Regions from separate parts of the Homo sapiens genome. Here regions 2, 3 and 4 are each reported to be linked to region 1. Evidence: microRNA targets listed by miRTarBase, many of them from high-throughput screens and not tested one by one. Region 1 holds a microRNA gene; each other region holds the end of a gene's coding sequence.
Evidence for each region. The annotated mature microRNA hsa-miR-5706 reads UUCUGGAUAACAUGCUGAAGCU and lies in region 1 at 4,599-4,620, opposite strand. An mRNA with a match to its seed (bases 2 to 7 or 8) in the 3' UTR can be bound and repressed. Matches are read on the target gene's strand: a 7mer-m8 pairs with bases 2 to 8, a 7mer-A1 pairs with bases 2 to 7 and ends in A, and an 8mer does both.

Region 2: the mRNA of MYO18A is a reported target of hsa-miR-5706. Seed matches in the 3' UTR shown: 8mer at 4,612-4,619.
Region 3: miRTarBase lists B3GNT2 as a target of hsa-miR-5706. Seed matches in the 3' UTR shown: 7mer-A1 at 2,107-2,113.
Region 4: the mRNA of TMEM151A is a reported target of hsa-miR-5706. Seed matches in the 3' UTR shown: 7mer-A1 at 655-661.

The regions. Positions count from the first base shown.
Region 1 is chr5:119,152,147-119,159,265 of GRCh38, reverse strand. MIR5706 (microRNA 5706) reads right to left here and starts at 4,629; the gene lies at 4,550-4,629. The region is part of intron 19 of DMXL1 (Dmx like 1); the gene reads right to left.
Region 2 is chr17:29,068,077-29,075,195 of GRCh38, forward strand. It overlaps MYO18A (myosin XVIIIA), which reads right to left. Exons shown (of 42, transcript NM_078471.4): 42 at 3,046-6,838. The coding sequence ends at 6,694. Among named protein-coding and RNA genes, the nearest start is that of PIPOX, 28 kb to the left of the region's middle.
Region 3 is chr2:62,222,190-62,229,308 of GRCh38, forward strand. B3GNT2 (UDP-GlcNAc:betaGal beta-1,3-N-acetylglucosaminyltransferase 2) reads left to right here. Exons shown (of 2, transcript NM_006577.6): 2 at 23-2,542. The coding sequence starts at 32. The coding sequence ends at 1,225. Among named protein-coding and RNA genes, the nearest start is that of MIR5192, 20 kb to the left of the region's middle.
Region 4 is chr11:66,295,281-66,302,386 of GRCh38, forward strand. TMEM151A (transmembrane protein 151A) reads left to right here. Exons shown (of 2, transcript NM_153266.4): 2 at 1-1,384. The coding sequence ends at 373. Among named protein-coding and RNA genes, the nearest start is that of TMEM151A, 6.9 kb to the left of the region's middle.

The DNA.
Region 1 (7,119 bases):
AGCTACTCAGGAGGCTGAAGTAGGAGAATCACCTGAAACCCGGGGGCAGAAGTTGCAGTGAGCCGAGATTGCACCACTGCACTCCAGCGTTGGGTGACAGAAGCGAGACTCTGTCTCAAAGAAAAAAAAAAAGTCTCCCATCAACCCATCAAAACAAAAGCCTAGAATCTGATCGCATCACCGGTGAATTCTACTAAACATTTAAAGAAAAACTAACACCAATCCTTCTTGAACTCCTCCGAAGAACAGAAAGGAAAGAAAAGTTCCTCTTTTTATGAGACCAGGATTTCCCTTATGCCAATGCCAGGCAAAATGAATTAAAAAAAATTATAGGCCATTATCCCTGATAAATACAAATGTAAAACCCCCCACAAAATACCAGCAAACCAAATTAACAGCACAATAAAAGGATCACCCACTGTGATCAAGTAGGAATTATGCCATGGGTTCAAGATTAGCTCAACATGTGCAAATTAACTGATGTCATTCTGTTCATATTAACAAAATTAAGGACAAAACCATATGATCCTCTCAACTGATGCAAAAAAAGCATCTGATAAAATTCGACATCCTTTCATGACAAAAACTCTCCCAAATTAGGTGTAGAAGGAATGTTCCTCAACACAACAAAGGCCATAAATGACAAGCCCAGAGCTAAACATCATACCCAACAGTGACAATTCAAAAGCTTTTCCTCTAAGATCAGAAAGAGGACAAGGATGCACTCTCTCACAACTTCTACTCAATTATGATAGTACTAGAAGTCCCTGCCAGAGCATTTAGACAAGAGAAAGAAATAAAAAGGCATCCAAATAGGAAATAAAGAAGTGAAAATGTCACTGTTTGCTAACAACACAATCTTACATACAGAAAACACATAAGACTCCACCAAAGAAACAGTTAGAACTAATAAACAACTACATTAAACATGAAGGATACAAAATTAAAATGCAAAAAGCAGTGGCATTTCCATACAGTAACAACAAATTATCTGATCTGATTTTAAAAATAAACAAAACAATCTCATTAATCATTGCTACTTAAAAAAAAAAAAAAAAAACCTTAGAAATATATCGGCCAGGCCGGTGGCTCACATCTGTAATCCTAGCACTTTGGGAGGCCAGGGTGGGAGGATCATTTGAGCTCAGGAGTTTAAGAAAAGCCTGGGCAACACAGCAAGACCCCATCTCATTAAAAACAAAAATTTAACCAAGGAGATAAAAGAGCTCTAAAATAAAAACTATAAAATATTGATGAAAGAAATTTGAAGACACAAATAAATGGTAAGATATCCAGTGTTCACAGATTGGAAAAATTAATTTGTTAAATTTTTAATTTGTTAAAATGTCCAAACTATCCAAAATGATCTACAGATTCAACGCAATCTCTATCAAAATACTGATGTCATTTTTCACAGAAATAGAAGAAAAAAACCCTAAAATTCATTAGGAATACCAAGAAACACCAAATACTCAAAGTAAACTTGAGATGAAAGAACAAACCTAGAGACATCACACTACCTGATTTCAAACTATATTACAAAGCTAGGGTAACCAAAATAGCATGATACTGGTGTAAAAACAGAAACAGACCAATGGAACAGAATAGAAGGCACGGAAATCAACCCATACATTTATACTCAATTGATTTTTGTCAAACGTGCCAGGAACACACAATGGGAAAGGATAGTTTCTTCAAAAAATGGTGCTGGGAAAACTAGATAACCACATGCAGAAGAATGAAATTGGACCATTATCTTACACCATATACAAAAATAGGTCAAAATGGATTAAATACTTAAGCATAAGACCTGCATTGTAAAACTACTAGAGGAAAACACAGAGGGAAAACTACATGTCATCAGTCTGGGCAATGATTTTTTTGGATATCACACCAAAGGGACGGGCAACAAAAGCAAAAATGAACAAATGGGATGACATCAAACTGAAAATGTCTGCATAGCAAAGAATACAATTAGCAGAGTGAAGAGAAAAGCCGTGGATTGGGAAATAATATCTGCAATCTGTATATCTGATAAGGAGTTAATATCCAAAATATATCAAGAACTCAAGTAACCCAATAGCAAGAAAACAACTCAATTAAAAAATAGGCATGCCAGGCACAAGTGGTGCACACCTGTAGACCCAGCTATTTGAGAGGCTGAGGCAGGAGGATGGCTTGAGGCCAGGAGTTTGACTCCAGCCTGGGCAACAGAGTAAGACCCTCAACTCTTGGGGGAAAAAAAAAAAAACCAGAGGGGATAAATGAACTGAACAGATATTTCTCAAATGAAGACATATGAATGTCCAACAGATAAATGAAAAAAGCGCTTGATATCTATAATCATCAGGAAAATGCAAATTAAAGCCATAATGAGATAACAACTCACACCTGCTAGAATGTCTATTATCAGAAAGAGAAAAAAACAAACAGTTTTCATAAAGAAGTGGCGAAAAGGGGAGCCTGGTACACTGCTAATGGGAACATAAATTAGTACAGCCATTATGGAAGAGGGTATGAAGGTTCCTCAAATATCTAAAAATATTCTGGGACAATGTTTTATTAAAAGAGAAGAAAAGAAAAGAAATTTTAACTAAAAAAAAAAAGAAAAAATTTAAAAACAAAATTACCACATGATCCACCAATCCCACTTATGTGTATATAGTCAAAGGATGTGAAATCAGTATGTTGAAGAGATAGCTGCACTCCAATGTTAAGTGAAGTTTTCTTCACAATAGTTTAGTTATCAATTCAACCTAAGTATCCATCAATAAATTAATAAAGAAAATATCGTATATATAGGCAGACCTTGGAGATACCATGGGTTCGATTTCAGACCACCACAATAAAGCAAATATTGCAATAAAATGAGTAACACAATTTTTTGTTTCCCAGTGCATATACAAGCTATGGTTACATCATACTGTGGTCTATTAACTGTGCAATAGCGTTATGTCTAAAATGAGTGTACATACCTTAATTAAAAAATACATCATTGCTAAAACATAACAATCACCTGAGCCTTAAGCAAGTCATAATTTTTGCTGATGGAGAATCTTGCCTTGATGTTACCGGCTGCTGACTGATCAGGGTAGAGGTTACTGAAGGCTGGGATGGCTATAGCAATTTCTTAAAATAAGGCAACAATGAAGTGTGCCACATAGATGGACTCTTCCTTTTATGTAAGATTTCTCTATACCATGTAATTCTATTTGATAGAATTTAGAACTTCTTTCAAAATTGGAGTCAGTCCTCTCAAACCCTGCCAATGCTCTATCAACTAAGTTTACAGACTATTCTAAATCCTTTGTTGTCATTTCAACCATGTTCACTGCATCTTCACCAGGAATAGATTCCACCTTAAGAAACCACATTCATTGCTCATCCTTTAAGAAGCAACTCCTCATCTGCTGAAGTTTTGTTTTTTTTTTTTTTTTTTGAGACAGGGTCTCCTCCTGTTGCCCAGGCTGGAGTGCAGTGGTGTGATCATAGCTCGTTGCAGTCTTGACCTCCTGGACTCAAGTGATATTCCTATTCAGCTCCCTGAATAGCTAGGACTACAGGCACGTAACACTAAACCTACCTAAATTTTTTTCAGAGATGGCGTCTATGTTGCCCAGGCTGATCCTAAACTCCTGGCCTTAAGCGATCCTCCCACCTCAATATCCCAAAGTGTTGAGATTACAGGGATGAGCCATCGTGCCTGGCTCTGCTGAAGTTTTACCCTGAGATTGCAGCAATTCAGTCACATATTCAGGTTCTACTTTTAATTCTAGTTCCCCTGCTATTTCTACCGTATCTGCAATTACTTCCTCTACTGAAGTCTTGAACCTCTCAAAGTCATCTGTGAAGGCTGGAATCAACTTCTTCCAAACTCTTGTTAATGTTGATATTTTGACCTCCTCCCATGAATTACACATGTCCCCAATGGCATCTAGAATGGTGAAGCCTTTCCAGTGGTTTTCAATTTACTTTGTCCAGATCCATCAGAGGAATAATTATCTATAGCAGCTATAGCCTTATGAAATGTATTTCTTAAATGATAAGACTTAAAAGTTGGAGGCATTCTTTGATTCATGGACTGCAAAATGAATGTTGTGTTAGCAGGCATAAAAACTATATTAATCTCCTTGTACACCTGCATCAGAGCTCTTGCGTGAACAGGTCACTGTCAATAACAGCAATATTTCGAAAGGAAATCTTTCTTCTCAACAGAAGGTCTCAATAGTAGGCTGCAAATATTCAGTAAATTATGCTATAAACAGAGGTGCTGCCATTGGGCTTTGCTATTCCATGTGTAGAGCGCAGGCAGAATAGGTTTCACATAATTCTTAAACACTCTAGGATTTTCAGAATGGTAAATGGGCATTGGCTTCAACTTAGTTACCAGCTGCATTAGCCCCTAACAAGAGTCAGTCTGTTCTTTGAAGCCAGGCACTGACTGCTCTCTAACTACGAAAGTCCTAGATGGCATCTTCTTCCAACAGAAGGCTGTTCCATGTACTTTAAAAATCTGTCCTTTTGTGTAGCCACCTTCATCCATTATCTTAGCTAGATCCTCTGGAAAACATGCTGAAGCAAGTGCTGAATGACGTAGAAGCTTCAGCATGTTATCCAGAAGACCTAGCTTCACCTTGTACTTGTAGTTTACGGAGAAAGCTCCTTTCCTTAAACCTCATGGACCAACCTCTGCTAGCTTCAAACTTTAATTGTGCAGCTTCCTCACTTCTCTCAGCTTTCATGAAATTAAGACGAGTTACAGCCTTGTTCTGGATTAGGCTTTGGCATAAGAGAATCTTGTGGCTAGTTCGATCCATCTAGACCACTCAAACTTTCTCCACATAAGCAATAAGGCTACCTTGCTTTCTTATCATTTATGTGTTCAATGGAGAACGTTTAGTTTCCTTTGGACCTTGTCCTTTGCATTTACAATTTGGTAAACTGTTTGGCACAAGAGGCTTAGCTTTCAGCCTATCTCGGCTTTCAACATGCCTTCCTTACTAAGCTTAGTCCTTTCTAGCTTTTGATTTAAAGGGAGAGATATGCAGCTCTTCCTTTCACTTGAACACTTAGAAGACATTGTAGGGTTGTTAAACTGTCCTAATTTCTATATTGTTATGTCTCAGTGAATAGGGAGGTCTGAGCAGAGGGAGAAATACAGGGGAATGGCTGATCAGTGTTGTAGCCACAGTACACACAACATTTATTGATTAAATTCATTGTCCTACATAGGCGCAGTTCATGGCACTCCAAAACCATTATAATAGTAACAAAGATCACTGATCACAGATGACAGAAAAAGTTTGAAATATTGTGAGAATTACCAAAATGAGACACAGAGACATGAAGTGAACACATGCTGTTGGAAAAACGGTGCTGAAAGACTTGCTCAACAAACGGTTGCCACAAAGCTTCAATTTGTAAAAACTGCTGTATTTGCAAAATGCAACCTAGCAGAACACAATAAAAAGGAGTATGCCTGTATATACACTGGAGTACCAGTCAGCCTTAAAAAACGAAATCTTGTCATTTGCAACAACATGGATGAACCTGGAGAACATTACAGTAAGTGAAATAAGCCAGTCATAGACAAATATTGCATGATCTCACTTATCTGTGGAATCGAATACAATTGAAATCAAAGAAACAGAGAATAAACGGTATTTGCCCAAGGCTGGGGACAGGATGAGAAGGGAGACATTGGTCAAAGGGTAAAAAGTTTCAGTTAGGAGGAATACATTTTTGATATCTACTGCACAGCATGGTAGCTACCTTTAATAATAGTGTATTGTATATTTCAATATTGCTAAGAGAGTACATTTCAAATATTCTTACCACAAATATTTTACATATCTGAGGTGATGGATATGTTTAGTTTGACTTAATCATTCCACTTTGTATACATATATCAGAACATTACTTTGTACCCTATAAATACATACAATTTTAATGTGCTAAATTACAATCTAAAAATTTTAAAGAGAATTTGGCCTGGCAAGATGGCTCACGCCCATAATGCCCAGCACTTTGGGAGGCCGAGGCAGGTGGATTGCTTGAGGTCAGGAGTTCAAGACTAGCCTGGCCAATATGGTGAAACCCCATCTCTATTAAAAATACAAAAATTAGCCAGGCGTGGTGGTGTGCGCCTGTAGTCCCAGGTATTCGAGAGGCTGAGGCAGGAGAATCAGTTGAACCCAGGAAATGGAGGTTGCAGTGTGCGGAAATCACACCACTGTACTCCAGCCTGGGTGACAGAGCAAGACTCTATCTCAAAAAAGAAAAAAAAAAAACTAAAAAGAATTTGATTTAGAATTTTCAACTTTACTTTTTTCAAAGCTATATGCAAAATGAGAAAAAGAAAATAGTGAGAGAAACAAAGAGACAGAGACATAAGGTACGAGCAAGAGACTGAGACCAAGGAGCAGAGGCTAAAAGGCTAAACTGCAAAGTCCCAATAACACTTTTTAAACCTATAGTTCCAATAATGCTGAAAGTCAGCTCTATTTCTTGAACTTCCCGGGAGATGAGCCAAAAAACATGCTGTTTTGTTTAAGTGAACTTAAGTGAGATTTCTCTTACTTTGAACTCTCTAAGACAATGTTATTTTCTGGTACCTACAATAATCGTTTAATAAGAATCTATTACGTTATGCTAAGACAGTTCAAAGTCTAAGATAGTTCAAAGTAAGAGAACTAACAGTATCTGAAATACAGCACTAAATATAGAATACATGAAATATACTAAACTAATATCTGAAATACATATTTTATCAGTAGTTTTAAGTGTGGGTAAATTTACACTTTCAATATTCTGTACTCTGTGAAATATTTAAAATTTGAGAATGTATTATAACACAAATGTTATTCAATGTTTGGTGGAAAAACTGAATTTAGATAAATGTCAAAAAAAAGGAGAGAAAAGACAATCTAAAGAAGAAATTAAAGAAAATGAAACAATACTAATTTGCCTTGAACATATCATGCATTTAAAAACATAACACAGAACATCTCCAGTATGTTTCTTCATTAACTCCTTTTGCCTACCATTAAAAATTCCAATGTTTTAAGCAAAGATTATGACAAAATAAACATTTTAACAAATAAAGGAAACTTAAAATAT
Region 2 (7,119 bases), not on the chromosome of region 1:
CCTCAGCCTCCCAAAGTGCTGGGATTACAGGCGTGAGCCACCGTGCCCGGCCTAATTTTTGTATTTTTAGTAGAGAGGGGGTTTCACCATCTTGGCCAGGCTGGTCTCGAACTCCTGACTCCAGGTGATCCACCCACCTCAGCCTTAACTCCTTTTTTTTTTAAATTTCCATTTTCAAATTCCCTAGTGTCCTCTCTTTCCCAAATCCATTTGCTGCTTTTCCTAATCTAGTCAGATCATAGATGTGGCACAAAACATATAAAAATTTCTTAAAATGTGGAAACTCTTTGACTCTTAAGCCACTTCAAATATAATTTGGCTGGATAGTGTCAAAACGTAATATCCTTTTTGAATTTTCTTTTCTTCTAAAACTGTCATAGCTGACTTTTGATATCTACAGCAAATTCTATCTGCACATATAAGTATTCCACTGGGGGATTTATGTGACTGACTTCAGTCGCAAAGCACACACTCTTTTTGGAATCTCCCTTATGTTTATGACCCATCTCTGGGGCTCACGCTACAGAAGACTCAATTTCTCTGTACAATTCCTTCTAAACACATCCAGTATCCTTGTTAACTCCAAAATGGCTACTGCTCTGGAAATCTTTCCTCCCAGATCAAATAGCAGGGAATGGTCTGGATTGTTGTTGTACTGTAATGAAATTAGACTGAAGTGAATATAGCTTAAAATATGCATTCTGAGCGATGTGGAACTGTTATTCATATTGCTGGCACAGTGGGAGTGAAGTGAAAATGTGATAATATATGGGGGATGCTCTGAAAATTGTGAAGCGCGACGCAAATGTGAAGTAGATATTTTCCCCCCAAATTGCCAAGAAGCGTTTCCTTTCTGAGGCCAGGACTTGGCGAATGCCAGGCACACGCGATTTGAGATGAGGACCATGGTAGTGATTCTTTGCTTTCTTGCCTCTCACTGCATCCTCTGCCAAGGCCAGAATAGTTAGGAGACGCCTGGCCAGCTGCTGGAAGCAAGTTGAGGACTCTGCTTAGAAAGATGACATCACCCCTCAGCCTCAGTTTTCTTTCCAGGATGACGTCTTCACAGAGTTGTGATGGAGGTGAAATGAGATTTTGTAGGGCAAAGTGCTTAAGCGCTGGGGTCATCATAGTAAGTGCTCAACAAATGGGAACTGTTGTTGGTCCTTTTTTTTTTTTTTTGAGATGAAGTCTCTCTCTTGTCCCCTAGGCCAGAGTGCAATGACACGATCTTGGCTCACTGCAACCTCTGCCTCCCGGGTTCAAGCGATTCTCCTGCCTCAGCCCCCCAAGTAGCTGGGATTACAGGTGCCTGCCACCACGCACGGCTAATTTTTGTATTGTTTTTAGTTGAGATGGGGTTTCACCATGTTGGCCAGGCTGGTCTTGAACTCCTGACCTCAGGTGATCCACCCTCCTCGGCCTCCCAAAAGTACTGGGATTACAGGCGTAAGCCACCGCACCCGGCCAATTATTGCTCTTATTACCCTCCTCTCACTACTGACAGGGTAGGAAGGGGCCTGTCAGTCCCAGTCACTGACTCTGGGCCTCAGCTCAGGCCAGAGTTCCAAGGGCCCTTAAAAGGGCGGGAAACATTATTTCCGGGTTGCTCGGAGAGTAGACCTGTCCTAATGCCGCTGTAATCATTAAAAGGGCAACACAGATGGGCTGCCCATCGGCGGCTTGAAAACCCATTTCTTTTAAGGGGAGTGGCTTCTGGGAAGTGCGTAAAGAACCTCCAGGCAGGGGCGGGACCAGAGGGCCACGTGCGCCAATGAAAAGTGGATATGCAAATATATATATGAATATGCTAACGAGCTCTCGGTTTCCCAGTGAATGGTAGGGCACAAGCCTGGACTGGCAGAGCGGGCTAGGGAAGAAGAGGAAATGAGAGGACCTCGAGGTTCAACCGAGTGTCTGAATGGAAACTAACTCCCGACAGACCATGCACAACGTTTCTTCCACAGCACCCGGATCTCGAAGCCCCACTGGGCATCAACTGTCAGTCCCTCACTAGGGGGGATGAAGGGGGAGGGCGTGGGAGATTCTTTTGGCTGTGGTAAGGAGCTCTGAATTTAGAAGCCAGAAGGTTCTTGCCAGCAATACTACCTTGTTTCACAGATGGGGAAACTGAGGCCTGACAGGTTAAGCCCCTTCTCCAAGGTCGCAGTGCTAGACGCAGAAGAACTCAGTTTGGCAGGTTTTGTCTATTTTTGCTTTGTTTTCATTACTGCACGGGGGCACCACTCTGGAGGTGAAAAGGCAGCAGCCTGAAAGGCGGCAGAGCTTGGTACATTACCGAACGTGTCGGACTGCCCACCAGGCTGGAGGTTTTAGAAAATATGTCCTAGGAGAAGATGGAAGGAGTCAGGGTGGCCGCCAGTAGAAGCAGGCAAGGACAAATTATCATAGACTTGTCTGGAATGTGTTGCTATATAAAAGGTGACGAAGTGTTCCAGCTTCCCAGAGAACCGGTGCAGTGGAAATGAACGGGGAACAGAAGGGATTAGGGTTAGATTTAAGGCAGTACTTTCTCCCAGGGATGATAATGGGGCCCTTCATTCAGTGACCAAGGCAGGCTAGGGACTCATCCCCCTCCCACTTCCGAGGCCTTTGGGAATCCATTTCCCTCCAGTCCCACACGGCCAGCTTGGAGGTCAGGAATGAATTAGAAGACTTTGAAAAGTCCCCACTATTCAGGTAGGCGATCCTTTCCCTGGATGGGCCTCCTGGGCTCTTTGCTGAGGGTAAGGACAGCAGCCGCTCTGGCTCCAGGGCCCTGGGGAAGAAACAGCAGTCATGGCATCTCTTGCAACACGCTCCCTGCCAAATTGATTCAAATTGGCTTGGATATGAACATATGATTAAAGGAGCGGCGCGATTCATTTATCAGGAGAGATTAAAGAGCGGCATCTGCGCAGCCTAGCTGGGGGACAATTAAGGAGCAAATCGCTAAGTGTCTTTGCCACCAGGCAAGTGGGTGGAGGATGGGGCAAGGACAACTGGGATAATCTGCCAAGGAGACACAAAGACAAAAGAAGACCATTTAGGGGTCACTGCCTGCCACTTTATTTTCTGGGCACAGACTGGGCACCATGGGGAGTCCCACAGGGGCACTGGTTCCCGCCCATGCTTATTCAGGAGTCAGAGCAATCCCGGGGATCTGCAGTTATAGAGGAGGATCTAGCAGGCTGGCTTTGAGCCTGGCAAAGGGCCAGATTTGCCTTCTGCAACATCTTAGGGACCAGAGGTACCATGAGTGTACAGGTAAGGTCAACAGCAGAGCCTTCAAGGTACACCCAAAATAAAGATGGGCTTTGGTGGCCCTAAAGGCTCCTGGACTCCTCTGGGGCCAAGGGAATTGTCTCCTTCTCAACTGAAACTTGGAGAAGCACTGGTCATGTGACAATGCACAGCCAGCCTGTGGCATGTTCTACCAGCACCTCTCTTTCCCTGCCCCAGGACCTTTACTTAAACTCTTCTTCTTCTCAATATGCCTTTCCCAGCAACTGTACCTGTGGAAGTGCTATTTTCAAGCCCTGGTCAAAATAGCAGCTCCTTTTAGAGGCTTTCCCAATCCTCCCCGCCAAAGAGAGCATCTCCCTCCATAGTATGTCCAAAGCAACCTCTTCATCCTTGTTAGGTCTTATGTAATTATTTCCACATGGGTCTGCTCCAGCCCTCGTCCGCAAAACCCTGGAGGATGGATACTATGATGTGTTCCTCTCTACCCACTCTAAGCTTATGCATACTAGCAGGTGCAGCATGTATTTTGTGTCTACCTTCCTCCACTTTATGAAGGAAGGGACCTTATCCATCACCAGCACCCAGAATGGGGCCTAGGCACAGCAGGCAGTCATGAAATATTTCTCAACTGTTAAGCAAATGAATATGTTTTCTGACTTGAACAAAGCTTTTTACCCCAGGCCGGGTTATTGGAGGTTGATGTTGGAGTTTCCAGTTAACCAGAGGCTTGACTCAGTATGAGTGAACAGATTTGGGAATTCATCTAAAGGTGGCAGGGAGTTTGTCACACTAGTCCCTAGTAGAAACAGAAAATGTACCACGCTATGTGAAAACAGGAATAAAAGATGAGAGTGACAGAACTGAACATAAGCTAGCAGCCTTTTTTTTTTTTTTTTTTTTTTTGTAAAAAAAAGTAACTTAGGCCAGGCACAGTGGCTCATGCCTATAATCCTAGCACTTTGGGAGGCGAGGCAGGCAGATCACTTGAGGTCAGAAGTTCGAGACCAGCCTGCTCAACATGGCGAAACCCCGTCTCTATTAAAAATACAAAAATTAGCCAGGCGTGGTGGTACACGTCTGTTAAGTCCCAGCTACTCGGAGGGTTTAGGCAGGAGAATCGCTTGAACCTCGGGAGGTAGAGGTTGCAGTGAGTTGAGATCATGCCACTGCATTCCAGCTTGGGCGACATAGCAAGACTCTGTCTCCAAAAGACAAGTAACTTCCCTTTTACTATTGTTTCTATCCTCTTCTCTGTTCTATCGTGGGGCAATGGAGGGGGCAGTCTCTGTTCGAGACAGATCCACTTCACACTCTGTCCCATTCATTTTGGGGGAGACTTTTCTCCCTTCTTCCCTTTTGGACTCTTTCTGGATGGCTGACATTATCAGAGCCTCGGCACTTGGGCTGTTTGCTATTTTTTCCCACCCATCTGTCCAAACTACTTTATTCATTCAGGGATTATAACTGGCCACACTACAGAATGAGAAGGTAGAAGGTAGAAGAGGAGGAGGGGTGTCATTTGTTTCTTGCCTTTCTGCATGAGCTGCCTCTTAGCTGTCAATGAAGGAACAAAGCATGGAGTAGGGCATGAAGACAGGGACCGAGCAGGGCAGAGACAGCACTCCCAACCTATTCACATTGCCCTGTGGGCCCGAGCTAGTTCTGCCAAGTTTTGATCAAAAAGTCACCTTTGAAATGGCTAAAATTAAGCTTTTAAAAAATGTTCTAATGAGAAGGGCTTGAATCCAAAAAGAAAGAGAATGAAAGAAAGAAAGAGAGAGAGAGAGGGAGAGAGGGAGGGACGGAAGGAGGAAGAGAAGAGAAGAGAAGAGAATCTCTGTAATTGGTGAGATTTAACAATCAGAGGGACCTCAACATTCCCTTGTGGAGGCTAGGGAGGATGAGGCTTGGAGTCTCTGCCACCCTTGCTAACCTGAATCACAGTCCCTAGGCTCTTCACATAAAAGGTGGGGCTTGTGTCTTCCTTGGCCAATCCCCTCATTCCACTACCTCTGCCTGCCCCAAAATGAGCTGCCTAGGCTCTTTAAGTGGCACTGGTCTGACACTTTGGGGAGCAGGCCAGAGACCAGGGTGATGCCCTCACGGTCCCCATCAGAATCCTGCCTCTGCCCACCACCCCCAGGACCAATCCAGACTTTGCCTGAGCCTGAAGGAACAGGCAGGAAAACTGGCGCAGCCAGGAGGAAAAGGGCCTTTATTTCCATACATCGGGTAAACAGGGGAGAGCACAGCCCAGTGAGTACAAACCAATTGCAGGAGAGAAGGGGGGCGGCAGATGGGAGCAGCACCAGGCACTGCACTTGGGCTCCCAAGTCTGGTGGAGTTCTCAGGGATAACCTTTTTAGGGTGGGGGCTGGGACCTCCAGACCACATGGTGTTGTGTCTGGGATAAGTGTGTGGGGGCAGGGAGGTTGGAAGAATGACACGGGCTCAGGACACAGAGTGAGGACTCATGTCTAATGAGCACCGGCCAAAACTTCCATCTTCAGTTTTTCTGATCACAAGTCCTCAACCCCAAGCCTTCCCTCTCAAGTTGAGTTTATGGTCCAGACCACCTGGACAGAGCAGGAGGGAGGCAGTGCTTGGATCAGCCCTGAACTGCTGTAGTTGGAATGGGTTTACCTTAAATAGGTCATTGCACATAACACGCTGAGACAAAGAGGGTGGGGTGGGGGCTGGAGGTGCGGATGGTCCACACACACACTTGTCTGCGTAGGCTTGCTCAACCCAGCCCAGCAGCACCGGAGAGCCCCTCCGCACCTCATTCTTAAGAACCTGGACCCGGCTCTCCTCACCAGCGTCTCCAGCTGCACAGAGAAAGGACTGCTCTCTGAAGGGTGAAGATGGAGATGACATTCCCGAGTCGTTCTTGGGAGCCCCAGCTACCACTACAGCCCCCTCCCACTCTCAGGGATGCAGCTGTGATGGAGAGGTTGGGTATTTAAATTAAAAAGTAGAAAGACAGCAGGCACCAAGAAGAGAGAGCCCCCACCCCACACGAGAGGGAAGGCACTGCTTCTCCTCCCCCAATCCTCCCCATGGACCCAGCAACCTAGAGTGTCCCAGTAGGCAACCTGTCCACCGTCCCTGAGCAGGGAGCTGAGAGGGAGGTCAACGTGCTGGCTCCATGCAGTGCCAGGCCACCTGCCACTGCCCACGGTGACACAGGGTAGAAGCCAAGAGTCTGGCATTTTGAGACAGAGGAGCAAAAAGTTCTCTTCAGAAACTCCTCTTTCCCCCACCTCTTCCACGTGGAGACATCAGACACCCATAGCCTGGAAAGTGCCCCTGACAGAAGAAGGTCAGGGTGTTTCCCATGCAGATCAGCAGTCGGGTGGGGGAGACCGGTGCCCCACCACTTCCTGGGAGAGGTGCCCAGGCAGCCACAGGCCCTGGGGTGAGAGGGCTGCCAACCACTCCCCTGGGCTATGCGTTAGTCTCCGTCAGCTTGGCCTCTGTGTCGCTGTCACTCAGATAACTGTGGGAGTATCGCGGTCTGGAGGTGTTGTCGAGAGGGTCGTGCTCATCATCTGACCGATCAGGGGCAAGGGACTTCCAGTAGCTGGTGGGGCTGCAGGGACCGAGGAATAAGGTTAGGGACAAATGACACTCCTACCATTAAGCACGCACGCCTTTGGTTCTGGAGGCCCACAAAGCTGCGTCAGAGCACTCCCCAAAAGCCAAACATTGTTAAGTAAAAACCTTCCTTGGCTTACTTAGAAGATACTCAAAATGCTAAGAGGAAGGAGACTCTGGAAGCTTTTAAAGCTCCGAGGAAAGGGATGCTGAGAGCAGTGAGTCTCGGACTCAAGCGTGCATAAGAATCTGATGCAGGTTCCTGGGCCCTTCCTC
Region 3 (7,119 bases), not on the chromosome of region 1:
ATACTCCACCCCTTTATTCCAGATATGAGAAATGAGTGTTGGACGTCGAAGAATAAAGTTGTTGGGTATCCTGATGATGGCAAATGTCTTCATTTATTTTATTATGGAAGTCTCCAAAAGCAGTAGCCAAGAAAAAAATGGAAAAGGGGAAGTAATAATACCCAAAGAGAAGTTCTGGAAGATATCTACCCCTCCCGAGGCATACTGGAACCGAGAGCAAGAGAAGCTGAACCGGCAGTACAACCCCATCCTGAGCATGCTGACCAACCAGACGGGGGAGGCGGGCAGGCTCTCCAATATAAGCCATCTGAACTACTGCGAACCTGACCTGAGGGTCACGTCGGTGGTTACGGGTTTTAACAACTTGCCGGACAGATTTAAAGACTTTCTGCTGTATTTGAGATGCCGCAATTATTCACTGCTTATAGATCAGCCGGATAAGTGTGCAAAGAAACCTTTCTTGTTGCTGGCGATTAAGTCCCTCACTCCACATTTTGCCAGAAGGCAAGCAATCCGGGAATCCTGGGGCCAAGAAAGCAACGCAGGGAACCAAACGGTGGTGCGAGTCTTCCTGCTGGGCCAGACACCCCCAGAGGACAACCACCCCGACCTTTCAGATATGCTGAAATTTGAGAGTGAGAAGCACCAAGACATTCTTATGTGGAACTACAGAGACACTTTCTTCAACTTGTCTCTGAAGGAAGTGCTGTTTCTCAGGTGGGTAAGTACTTCCTGCCCAGACACTGAGTTTGTTTTCAAGGGCGATGACGATGTTTTTGTGAACACCCATCACATCCTGAATTACTTGAATAGTTTATCCAAGACCAAAGCCAAAGATCTCTTCATAGGTGATGTGATCCACAATGCTGGACCTCATCGGGATAAGAAGCTGAAGTACTACATCCCAGAAGTTGTTTACTCTGGCCTCTACCCACCCTATGCAGGGGGAGGGGGGTTCCTCTACTCCGGCCACCTGGCCCTGAGGCTGTACCATATCACTGACCAGGTCCATCTCTACCCCATTGATGACGTTTATACTGGAATGTGCCTTCAGAAACTCGGCCTCGTTCCAGAGAAACACAAAGGCTTCAGGACATTTGATATCGAGGAGAAAAACAAAAATAACATCTGCTCCTATGTAGATCTGATGTTAGTACATAGTAGAAAACCTCAAGAGATGATTGATATTTGGTCTCAGTTGCAGAGTGCTCATTTAAAATGCTAAAATAGATACAAACTCAATTTTGCATAGAAAGGTGTATTTTGAATAGTTCCCATGTTGTGTTCTCACATTAGAGTAATTTCTATATTAAACCATGAAAATTGCCTTTATGAGTGATACCCATTTGAGGGCCTCTAAACCCTTCAATTTGGTACTCACGTGAAGAGGGAAAGCGGAAGATGGTAATTTTTTTTTATGGATGATATGGCAGGATGATTGGTTCTGATCTTACCGGCTAGTGGTCATTTTTAAAAAACTTGTACCCTCTTATCTGAAATCCTGTTTCTGGAATTTGGCCATTTTAAGTGATTTTGTTTGCCCTCTTCTATAATATTCCTACTTCCCATAATAATGACTGATTTATTTGTAATTCAGGTATTTATAAACCTATTGGCTACAAAGACTTTGTTAAACATTATCCAGTGGTTTTCGTGAAATGGAATTATGTTTATTTTTATGGGATTTGGGTAAATTTTAAATTGTCTAGAAAACTGAAATTTCAGTTGTCAGTTGTGGAATTCAGTTTTTCAATTGTGGAAATTTCCTGCCACCCCAACAGTATTTTTGTGTGTTAATTAATTTTGCAAAATGAGAATCATGGTGTGACACTCATCTAATTTATCTTGTTGTGATGTTATGGTCATAATAAGGAGAAAGAGGGTTTAATTTTTCTTGTATTTGGTTTCCTGGTGGTATCATAGTGTAATTTTAGTATTTGAAAATCAGTGTGATTCCTTAATGGCCAACTGAAGATTGAATTGCCGCTAACAACCATATCGTGTTAGTGAATTTTCAATATGGACCAGGAAGGCATATGTATTTTGAACTTGAGTGAAAAGGTTGAAGTTACAGACTTTTGCATAGATGGTTTGTCAATTTAAAATTCCAGAATTTATTATTGCCATATTTTCACATGCTGCTTATACAAGATTATTATTGAGTAGTAACTGCTTCCCTGTCTATGTAGAAGTGCCTGTGTTTTTATTTATTGTTCAGATCAAAGACCAAAACATTTTCTTAAATATATTTTATGTAATATTTTATTTGTATACAGTGTTGTTGATGAAATATTTAACTAGAGCATGATATTTTAAATGTTAAGGTGTAACATATGTTAAATAAAACTGTTATTTTTGAATTTTAAAATTTGTTTTTTGGGGGTATGAACTACTAGAGTTTAAAATTCTGCCAAACTATTACTTATATGTACTATTGTGTAACATACTTTCTTGAAATATTTTTGTTTATAGAATTGAAGGTTCTTATCAGATGGGATACTGGGGACTATAAACAATGGAAATAAAGCCACTGTATTTTTAATTTTTTGTGTAATGTGTAATCTATAATCCTTTTGTTTCCCATATTTGAGAACATTTTTCCCTGAAAGAGGCCAGTTTCCTCCCCAGAAACCATTACAGTAGTGTTGAACTATCACTGTCTCTCAGTGCGTCATCCATCTTTGCATTTAAAATCCCCAAAGTGCTTTCCCATTTAAAGTCTTTAAAGAAAAGTGAGAATATTTATTTATGCTTCCATTTTCAGTGAGTATAAATAATTTAATTAGGGAGTGGTGTGGCATTGTAAAGATTGTGTTATCCTAAGCCATTTCTATTTTGGAGTTTGTAGCCACAAAGATGAAATATAGAATCAGCCTTGACTACTCAATTTCCTTTCATAGACCCATGTTGAGAAGACACTACTAACGTCCAGTGGGAAACAAGTAGACAATTGATGAAGCTCAAAAAACAGAAGGGTTAGTGTTGTAAGAGCAAACAGTCTAATCCTGTTTGGAATGTGGAAGCCATTTCTGAGCAAGTATGAGGACACAGGTGCTTGATTTGAGATTGAAGACTGTTTTCAGCCTGGTCTTCCTGAAGGTTTCCTGGGGCCTGCATCTGCCTTCTACTCCCATGGCTGCTAGCACACACCTCCCAGAGGGCCATATTGCCACATTATGGCTAGAGAAGAGTAAAGAAGAAAAGAAGCTCTGAGAACATTCACAGGTAATTGGATCACATTTGCATTTGTCCAAAAAACCTGACCACGCATTCTCAGGTAATAGGTTTCTCCTCTCAGAGGAATTTCAATTTTTTTTCTTGTTAGAGATTCCCCTTCTCTGAGGTTTCAAGTCTCTTGTAGAGAAAGAAGAGATGGAGCAGGTTTTGAATGAGGTGTGGAGGGCCACTGGGGGGCCTTTTGTGAGCCTTCAGTCCACATGTGTGCTGTTGTTTGAACATGAGTTCTTGGTGCTGATGACATTTGGATGAGATGATCTCTGGCCCTTCTTCATTTGGCAGAAGTTCTTGTGCAATGGCTGCCCAAGCCCACCACACTGGTCATTGCTGCCCTGTGAGATGGACCTCATGGGCTTTTTAGCAGAGCACGTTAGGTTTTAGAGCTTTACGCATGCTTGGGCTCTGTTATGGCGCAAACCCTTAAATCCAGGAAGGCCTCTCTTGGTGCCCACAATATGGGTTCTCACCTGATCCCCCATCTCACGGATGGAACTGCTGTAAGTCTAACTTATTCTTTGAGAACTGTTTAACAATTAGGCCTCAAGGGAAACTGGTATTTTGGGCCCTTTTCTTGGCTATTCCCAAGTCATGTTGATTTTGAGTTTGAAGGTCAAAAAGGCTGAAAGCATTGCCAGGGTTTGGACTATTCAAAAACCCAAGCAGGTCTTAAAAAAAGGATGCAAGAGACAAGAATGGCTCATTCCCCTTCCTGATCCTGGTTATACCCATGTCCTTTCTTGAGATGGTCAAGAGAGGCTGGAAAGAAGAACAGGAAATTGGGGGAGTGCTTTGTTACACTTGGAAATTGAGTCAAGAATTAAAGACACCCAAAGTGGGCCATCTCCTACTTGTCCACACCTGATTGGTGGTGATGCGGAATATTTGATGTCCCGGGTCATCTTGACTTTCTCAGATGCAAAAAGGGAGGGTGACTTTACTAATGGAAAGGATGGGAAGCTGAAATGAATGAAGCCTTCAGTTGGGCCAAAGTTTAACTTCCCCGTGATTTGCCTTCTGATGAAAAATGCCAGATGAAGTGAAAATTCTTGTTTCTTGCCTAGAACAGGAAAATACATACTTTACATGCTGGGCTATTGAGGCTATGAAATTAGGTTTTCCTTAATGTAAATCCAATTGCTAGAAACATTTGCCAAATAAGATTTTTTGAACTGAACTTTGTTTGCATTAATCTGAAAAACTGAAGTATTCTGACTCATGAAGTTCTCAAAGTAATACACTAAAAAAGTTTTGCCCTTAATACCATTATATCTTGTAGAGGCCAAGAATGAGGGACTTCTGTCTTTAAAGAGCCCTAAAAATCTCGTTTGCTCACATGATATGAATTACCGTATTTGTTGTAAATGCGCAACTTTGTATACACTAAAAGCACTGCCAATATGATTTTTTATCAGTTGTGCCTCAGTTAGAGATATTAAAATGTGACATCTTAAATATTACATATTAGAATAATTGAAATACAGCATGAGTCTTTATATATTTTTTTAAACCCTTAAATTGAAAGATGGAGTCCTAGGCCGGGTGCGGTGGCTTACGCCTGTAATCCCAGCACTTTGGGAGGCCGAGGCAGGCGGATCATGAGGTCAGGAGTTCGAGACCAGCCTGGCCAACATGGTGAAACTGCATCTCTACTAAAATTACAAAAAATTAGCCGGGCGTGGTGGCGGCACCTGTAATTCCAGCTACTCGGGAGGCTGAGGCAGGAGAATGGTTTGAACCCAGGAGGCGGAGGTTGCAGTGAGCTGAGATCACACCACTGCACTCCAGCCTGGGCGACAGAGCGAGACTCCATCTCAAAAAAGAAAAAAAAAAGAGTCCTGTTCAGGTGCATTTCCTGCTTCTGTCACTTTGACCTGTGTTTATGAATTCTCATCCCAACCAACCCTGGTGGCTTTTGAGCTTTGTCAGTTGCTTTCTTCTTGGCTGTTGTGCATGGTGAAAGGGGATGTGTTAACTGCACTGAAGCAGCGAGAGTAGTTTTAATTTGATTGTAATCCAAGGGCTTATTTCTAAGTCAGGGGCCTGGCAGTTGAACAAAGTGTTTGCAGCTTCCTGACAGCTGACCCACACGGGATTGGAGGGTGGGCCTTTGATGCTCCTCAAGCAATAAGCCACATGGAGAACTTGCATCGTAAGTGTTAGCAAGGGCTCACCTCACTGCCTTGGAAACCTACCATCCTGTGACTCGCCCTTTCCCAGCCTGTCTTCAACTCACATCCTCTCTTCCTGCTCATCACCCCAGGCCTTCCTGAAGTTGGCTTTCCTAGCTATTCTACTGGGCACCAACTTCCACCACCTCTTTAAAAAGTATCTCAAGTACAAAATAAACATTATCCTATCCTTGGTTTGGGTTTTTCCAGAAAACAGACTTTAAGACAGGGATTCTAGCTCAGGTAGGCTTTGGTGGAAGTGCAGGCACAAAGTTCAGCAGGAAGTGGCCCTTGGAAGGCAGCAGATGAGGAGTGTGAAGCCACTGCCACTGTGGGATTGGAGCTCAACCCCACAGGGAATCTGGAAAACAGTGCAGAATGCATGCCTCAGAACGCACCTGTCTGAGGCTTGAAGGAGCTGAACTTTTTTTTTTTTTTTTGAGATGGAGTCTAGCTCTGTTGCCCAGGATGAAGTGGGCGCAATTAGTGGCGTGATCTTGGCTCACTGCAACCTCCATCTCCCAGGATGAAGCAATTCCCCGCCTCAGCCTCCCGAATAGCTGGGATTACAGGCGCCCATCACTGTGCCCAGCTAGTTTTTGTATTTTCAATAGAGACAGGGTTTTGCCATGTTGGCCAGGCTGGTCTTGAACTCCTGACCTCAGGTGATCCACCCACCTCGGCCTCAGCAAAGTGCTGGGATTACAGGCGTGAGTCACCGCGCCCGGCCTGAACTACTTTTTATTTCTATTTTTTAAGACGGAGTCTCTCTCTGTTGCCCAGGCTAGAGTGTAATGGTGCAATCCCAGCTCACTGCAACCTCTGCCTCCTGGGTTTAAGCAATTCTCCTGGCTCAGCCTCCCAAGTAGCTGAGATTACAGGCATGTGCCACCCGTCCAGCTAATTTTTGTATTTTTAGTAGAGATGGAGTTTCACCATGTTGGTCAGGCTGGTCTTGAACTCCTGCCCTCTAGTCATCTGCCCGCCTTGGCCTCCCAAAGTGCTAGGATTACAGGCAAGAGCCACCATGTCTGGCCTTAGTAGATTGTAGAATTCTGCCGGAACCATCACTCCACTACAAAGCCAATTTGGTTTTAAGTCATGATGATTCTACCCGCCCTCTAGAAATTTTTTATTTTGGCCCTCTTTTTTTCTTTAAAAAATTTCTGAAACAGTTTGTTCTCTGATTGCTCCTCTTTCCATAGGAGCCTGTTCTTCATGGATGTAAGGACTGTGTATAAGAAAATGAATTAGAGTTTTTTTTTTTTTTTTTTACAATTCTTATCTCAGGGATTAGGTGAGTTGTTCACCCTAATTCTTATGGAGAAGAACAAATACTAAGTGATGCTTGGTCCTTTAATGCAGGACTGAACTGATTTGTAGAAGTTCCTAGGAGGTGTTTCTTTTTCTGGGCTGTTTACCCACAAGGCCACTTCCTACACTGGAAGGCTGGGTGAGGGTCACTGTATGGACGTATGTCCTGGCTTCCTTTCAGGGACTGAGCAGGTTGGGGGCAGGTAGACTTGACCCCAGATCTTGGAGCTGCCTTTCTTCCCTTTGCTCTGGGTCTGTTTCGCGGTATTCTACTCAGCTGCTTCAACCTGAACCCTCTACCTCCCCTTCAGTTTAGGGAGCATTCCTTAGCAGGTAAGCATCTGAGCTCACGTGCACTTAACCTGTGTGTTTGCGTGTGCGCATGTGCGTGTGCATTTGA
Region 4 (7,106 bases), not on the chromosome of region 1:
GCTCGAGTGGCACATCTGCTCCAACCGGCAGCTGGTGCCCAGCTACTCGGAGGCCGTGGTCATGGGCGCGGGCTCGGGCGCCTACCTCAGAGGCTGCCAGCGCTGCCGCCGCTCTGTCAGCAGCAACTCGCTGCCCCCCGCCCGGCCCAGCGGGCCCCGCCTGCCCTTCAGCCGCAGCCGCCTCTCGCTGGGCGCTGGCGGCCGGGCCACGCCAGGGGTCTTCCGCAGCCTGAGCGGGGGGCCGCTGGGGCGCCGTGGAGAGGACACGGAACCCCTGGAGAGCCCGCCCTGCTATGAGGACGCCCTCTACTTCCCGGTGCTCATTGTCCACGGAGACAGCGGCTGCCAGGGGGATGGGCAGGGTGCTCTCTGAGACCCCCCACGGCCCCCAGAGTGGCCCCCTCCCCACCATTCCACCATGGGCTTAGATGCCCGAGTGATTGTTGTCCAAAACAGGCGGGAAAACAGACCAGCCACACACAAGGGGCAGGGGTGAGGGTGGGGGTGGGGGTCCTTAAACAGACTAAAATGCAGTTACCTGTGGTCATTTTGGAGGAAGTGGAAGCCTAAGAATCGCCCCCAGCATGGCTTCATCCCCCAAGATGGCCGATGATCTGGCCTGAAGGCCTCTCACAAAGGGCAGGAGAAGAAGCTTCCAGAAAGGCTGGGATGGAGGAGGAGTCCTGCGGCCAGCTGTTGCCTGCAGCAGAGGCTGCCTGTGGACACTTCCCTACCGGGGCTGAGGCCATGCTGGGAGCCCCCCCAGTGACGCAGAAGCACAAATTGGAGGCTTGGGGCCATGCCCAGCCAGGTTGGCTTCCCTGGGGCTGAAGAGCTGGCTGTGGTGGCACCATGGCCTTGGCCCTGCTACTCACCCAACATTCCCATCCTCCCCTGATAGGCCCCTCCTCCTTGCCTGCCCTCTCTCCCGCTGCTCAGGGCCAGTCACTCCCCCCACATGCAGCTACCCCTACAACCTGGGGTTCCTTCTCAGGGCCTCACCTGGTCCCCACATCCCCTGGCCTCTGCTCCTGCCTCCCAAAGTCCATGTCTGCCTCCATCAGCCACACACACGCAGGGACGCCCGTTCCTTGCCCTCCCGGACTTATCTACTCTTCACTTTCCTGATGATCCATGGGGCCCAGGCCTAGAGGGCATCCGAGGGGCTGGGCCTTGGCCACAGCCTCTTGGATGATGTCCTTGCTCCACCACGCAGGCCCTTGCTTCTCCCATCAACGAGTCTTGGCCCAGGGGACACTGACCCTCCCCCAGGGAGGAGAGAGGAGTTCCTTCCCTTTCAACGAGGGCTTCCACGCCCTCTAAGGGGTGGCGGGGAAGGGAGGAGGCTGAGAAGATGCAGATTAAATAAAGGTATGGAATGGAAGGCCTGTGCATTCCTGGGTCATGGGTCTAAGGCCTCCACTGCAAGCATTATGGGCCCCCATGGTTCAGGGCACGATGAGGGGTTCTGGGAAGGGACTCAGAATTGGGCTCCAGTGTTCCCAGGAACCAAGTAAGCAGAGGAGAGGAAACCTCCCCTGCCTAGCCTGGGGCCTCTGAGACTCAAGTGTGAGGCGCTCTGAGCACCTGGCTCCCCTGACTCCGGTATCTGGGCCTGGGTCACTGCTAAGGCATTGTCAAGGTGGCCCTTGTTCCAGCTCAGTGGGACATTCCACTCTGCTGCTGGGCATGCCGAGGGCTAAGGGAGTGGTGGCCGGTCCCCAAAGTGGGGAGAAAGAGCTATGGTCTGTGACTCGAATTCGGTGCCCCCCCAGCGGCTACTGACATTATCAATCTGAGGGAAAGGGCATGAAGCAGGTCAGAAGACACAAAGCTGGAAAGGGCAGCCCCAAACCAGGGCAGGCTGGCATGGAATCCAAAGGCAGAGAAAACATCAGGGAAAAGGAAGGTCCTGACTCCCTGATGGAGCTCTGAAAGATTCCTGGACGTGGCATTGTCACATGTGCAGCAGTAAAGGGTGTTCACTGTGCAAGGGCAGTGGGCTAAGGGGCAAGCGTGCATGGAATCCAGCCTACAGGCCACTCCCCAAACTCTGGCATGGAGCTACATCCACTTGGAGAAAGGGGACCGTTTTCCTTTTCACGCAAAGGTGGCTTAAGGGCTAGTGGTGGCCCGGGAAGTGTGCTGAGAATGGGTGGATTTCACTAAGCAAAGACATGGCAAGCAATGTCTTGGACAGCCGATGCTGCCCAGACAAAGGCCTGGTTGTCGGGCATGAGCTGAGGTGTGACAAGGAGATAGAAGCAAGAAGCCATGGAAGGCTTTGCTGCAGCTTCCATGCCAAACCCTAGAATTTGTCCTTAAACTGGAGCAAACTGGGCAATCTGGAACCATGGAAGGGGGTTGGGCAGGGACGTGATACAGTCAAGGCTGCATTTTAGGATATTTAGCAAAAGTCCAGCGACCTGCTGGCTCTGTCGGGAGGGTGGAGTGAAAGACCAGAGTTCTCCCTGTGCGTTAACCCACAGCCTCTCTTCTTTGGGTGTGAAATCAGTTCCTCGTTCAGAAGCAAATTAGGTGGAAAACCCTGTGGTGCCCAAACATTCAACAAGGCTGCAGGGGGTGGCCAGGCACAGTGGCTCATGCCTGTAATTCCAGCACTTTCGGAGGCCGGGGCAGACAGATCATTTGAGGTCAGGAGTTTGAGATCAGCCTGGCCAACATGGTGAGACACCCCCCACCCCCGTCTTTACAAAAAATACAAAAATTAGCTGGGTGTGGTGGCGGGCACCTGTGACAGCTACTCAGGAGGCTGAGGCAGGAGAATCGCTTGAACCCGAGAGGCAGAGGATGCAGTGAGCTGAAATTGCGCCACTGCACTCCACCTGAGACTGTCAAAAAAAAAAAAAAAAAAAAAGGCTCCAGCAGGTAGGGAGGCCAGCATGCTGGTTTCAGCTCCTTGCCATGGGAAAGACCCTTTTTCCACCATTCTGCTCTAACACCATAGCCAACAACTGCCCACTGGCCACTCACTGTCCATTCTCCTCCCTTCCCCAATAACAGAACCCCAGTTTTGCTGCAGAAGGCAATGTGCCCAGCTAAAGGGCAACATTTCCAGCCTCCCTGGCATATATGGTATGACTGTGTGGCTGAATTCTAGGATATTAGATATAAACAGAAGGTGCTGGAAGGGATCTCCAAGAATGCCCCTTGAATAGAAGCAGTATTGATGAAGGCCATTTTTGTCCTCTCTGCTTCAGCCTGCATTCAGCCTTGGATGCATATGTGATAGCTGGAACGCCAGCAGCCATCTTGGAGCAGGAAATGACCTTGAAAATTGTAGCCACAGGCTGGGCGCGGTGGCTCATGTCTGTAATCCCAGCACTTTGGGAGGCCAAGGCGGGCGGATCTCGAGGTCAGGAGATCGAGACCATCCTGGCTAACACGGTGAAACCCTGTCTCTACTAAAAATACAAAAAATTAGCCAGGCGAGGTGGCAGGCGCCTGTAGTCCCAGCTACTTGGGAGGCTGAGGCAGGAGAATGGCATGAACCCGGGAGGCGGAGCTTGCAGTGAGCCGAGACTGCGCCACTGCACTCCAGCCTGGGCGACAGAGCAAGACTCCGTCTCAAAAAAAGAAAAGAAAAAGAAAATTGTAGCCACATGCTGAAGACAGCAGAGCAACAAGGGAAAAGATCCTGGGCTTCTGATGACACCATGCAAGTTTCCATGTCATCCCTTGGGTCGCCTACCTCCAGACTTCAATGAGAAAGAGAAATAAACTGTAAGTCTGCTTAAGCCCATTGCTTTTTTTTTTTGTCTCTGTTACCAGCAGCTTTTACCAATTATCTACTGCCACATAACAAATTATCCTAACCCTAGTGGCTTAAAAGAGCAATAATTATTATGCTCTCTCCTGGCTTCTGTGGGTCAAGAACTCAGATAGGACACAATGGGGATGGCTTCTATGCTCCACGACATCCAGGGCCTCTGCTGGAAGACTCAAAAGCTGGGGCTTGAATCATCTGAATGCTCATTCACTCACATGTCTGGCAGTTGATGCTGGCTGAGGGCTGAGGGCTGAGAGCCTAACTAGGGCTGTTGGTGGGAACACCCACACAGGTCCTCTCCAAGCGGCTTGACCTTCCTCATAACATGGTGGCTAGGTTCCAAGAACAAGTATACTGAGAGGGTGAAAGCTGTATTGCACTTTGTGATCTAGCCTCCTAAGTCACATGGCATCACTTCTGCCCCTTTCCATCGGTCAAGGCTACTATGAAGGTCCACTCAGTTTCAAGGGGAGGGAATATAGGATCTCATCTCTCTGTGGAGGCTTGTCAATGTCACATTGTTAGAAAAGCATGCGGGATGGGAGATATATTAGTGGTCATCTTCAAAAATGCAATCAACTGCTGAGCCAAATGCCATTTGCCATTCCTAACTGATTGATACCTGTAAAGTGATCTGCAAAATGAACACCAAGCTCTTTATAGTGCTGGTTTAAGGAAGGAAGGTGGTGGCATGTCAGATATGGGCCTGCTCAGGGCAAAGTGAGCTGCTCAGATCATTTATGGGGACCTTCAGGCCTATGGTAGATTAAATATGGCCACAAATTCTTTGCCACTCCTCTCCTCAAGAGGTGGAATCAGGCCGGGCACGGTGGCTCACGCCTGTAATCCCAGCACTTTGGGAGGCCAAGGCAGGTGGATCACTTGAGGTCAGGAGTTCAAGACCAGCCTGGCCAGCATGGTGAAACCCCAACTCTACTAAAAATACAAAAATTAGCTGGGCGTGGTGGTGTGCACCTGTAGTCCCAGCTACCTAGGAAGCTGAGACAGGAGAATCACTTGAACCCAGGAGGCAGAGGTTGCAGTGAGCTGAGATCACGCCACTGCACTCCAGGCTGGGCAACAGAGCAAGGCTCCATCTCACAAAAAAAAAAAAAAAAAAGAAAAGAAAAGAAGTGGAATCTGTTCGCCCTTTAAATCTGGGCTGGACTTGTGATTTGCTGTGACTGATTGGATGTGAGGGAAGAGATGTTGGCCCACTTCTGAGGCTAGGCCTCAAGGACTCTCGCAGCTTCCACCTTTGCCCTCTTGCAATCCTGAGACCACCATCTGTAAAGATGTCCAGCCAAGCCTCCTGACAGATTTGAGGCTGCGTGGAGAACTGAGGCCCCCAGCCAAGAGCCAGCATCAGCTCCAGATATGGGATGACAGAGGCCATCTTAGACACTGTAGCCCCACTTGAGCCGCAGATGACAGGAGCCTCAGGAGTGACCCAAGGTGAGACCAGCAGATGAACTACCAAGCTGATCCCAGCCCAGACTGCTGTCCTATAGAATGAGGGGAAATAAATCCTTGTTTTAATCCACTACATTTTGGAGTGATTTGTTACATGTTACATGATCACTGTCACAAGGCTCTAAACCCACCTGCACCTCATGAGGGAGGGCACTGGGCCTGCACAGCCAGGAAGAGGAGGGACCCAGAAGCCCCATTGTTTGATGGACAGCTCTCAGCTCACAATCTCCTGATGGGAGATGGGGTGGCCACGTGTTCAGACTCTCTTGGAGTCAACATCAAGCCAAGGTGTTCTGTTCTAAACCGTTCTCAAGAGAAGAATTCATGCCTGAGAAGGGGTGCAAAGCCTGGCTCCCAAACCCCAGCGGCCTCTGCCTCTGCTCTCTCCTGACATAGGCTACCCACAGCATGGCAGGAACAGAACCTGTAATTTCCACCCCTACCACCATCTGCTCCTCTCTGTCTTCCATCTCAGGAAATAGAGCTACCATTCAGCCAGTTGCCTAAGCCAGGCACCAGCACGGCAAGCCTCTTCTTTTTTTTTTTTTTTTTTGAGATGGAGTCTCACTCTGTCGCCCAGGCTGGAGTGCAGTGGCCAATCTCAGCTCACTGCAAGCTCCGCCTCCCGGGTTCATGTTCATGCCATTCTCCTGCCTCAGCCTCCCGAATAGCTGGGACTATGGGTGCCCGCCACCATGCCCGGCTAATTTTTTGTATTTTTAGTGAGACAGGGTTTCACTGTGTTAGTGTTAGCCAGGATAGTCTCGATCTCCTGACCTTGTGATCTGCCCGCCTTGGCCTCCCAAAGTGCTGGGATTACAGGCATGAGCCACCGCGCCCAGCCGCCTCTTTTTTTTTTTTTTTTGAGATGGAGTCTCGCTGTCACCCGGGCTGGAGTGCAGAGGCGTGATCTCAGCTCACTGCAACCTCCGCCTCCCGGGTTCAAGTGATTCTCCTGCCTCAGCCTCCTGAGTAGCTGAGATTACAGGCACATGCCACCATGCCTGGCTAATTTTTGTATTTTTAGTAGAGACGAGGTTTCACCATGTTGGTCAGGCTGGTCTCAAACTGCTGACCTCGTGATCCGCCCACCTCAGCCCCTCAAAGTGCTGAGATTACAGGCGTGAGCCACCCCGCCCGGCTGTCTCTTCTTTTTTTGAGACCGAGCCTCGCTCTGTTGCCCAGGCTGGAGTGCTGTGGCGCAATCTCCGTTCACTGCAGCAACCTCCGCCTCCAGGGTTCAAGCGATTCTCCAGCCTCAGCCTCCCGAGTAGCTGGGATTACAGGCACCCGCTGCCACGCCCATCTAATTTTTGTATTTTTAGTAGAGATGAGGTTTCTGCATGTCGGCCAGGCTGGTCTTGAACTCCTAACCTCAGGTGATCTGCCTGCCTCAGCCTCCCAAAGTGCTGGGATTACAGGCATGAGCCACCACGCCTGGCCTGTTCTTTCTTTAAAACTTTGTATTATGTAAAATTTCAGCTTGTAATCCCAGCACTTTGGGAGGCTGAGGTGAGAGGATCACTTGAGCTTGGGAGTTTGAAACCAGCCTGGGCAAGATAGTGAGAGCCCATCTCTACCAAAAAGTTAACAATTGGCCAGGTGTGTTGGAGCTCACCTGTAGTTCCAGCTACTCAGAAGGCTGAGGTGGGAGGATCGCTTGAGCTGGGAGGTCAAGAGGTCAAGGCTGCAGTGAGCCGTGATTGTGCCACTGCACTCCAACTTGGGTGACACAGCAAGACTCTAGTCTCAAAAATAAAATAAAATATCTTTCTTTCTTTTTTTTTTTGTTTTTTGTTTTTAGACAGAGTCTCGCTCTGTCACCCAGGCTGGAGTGCAATGG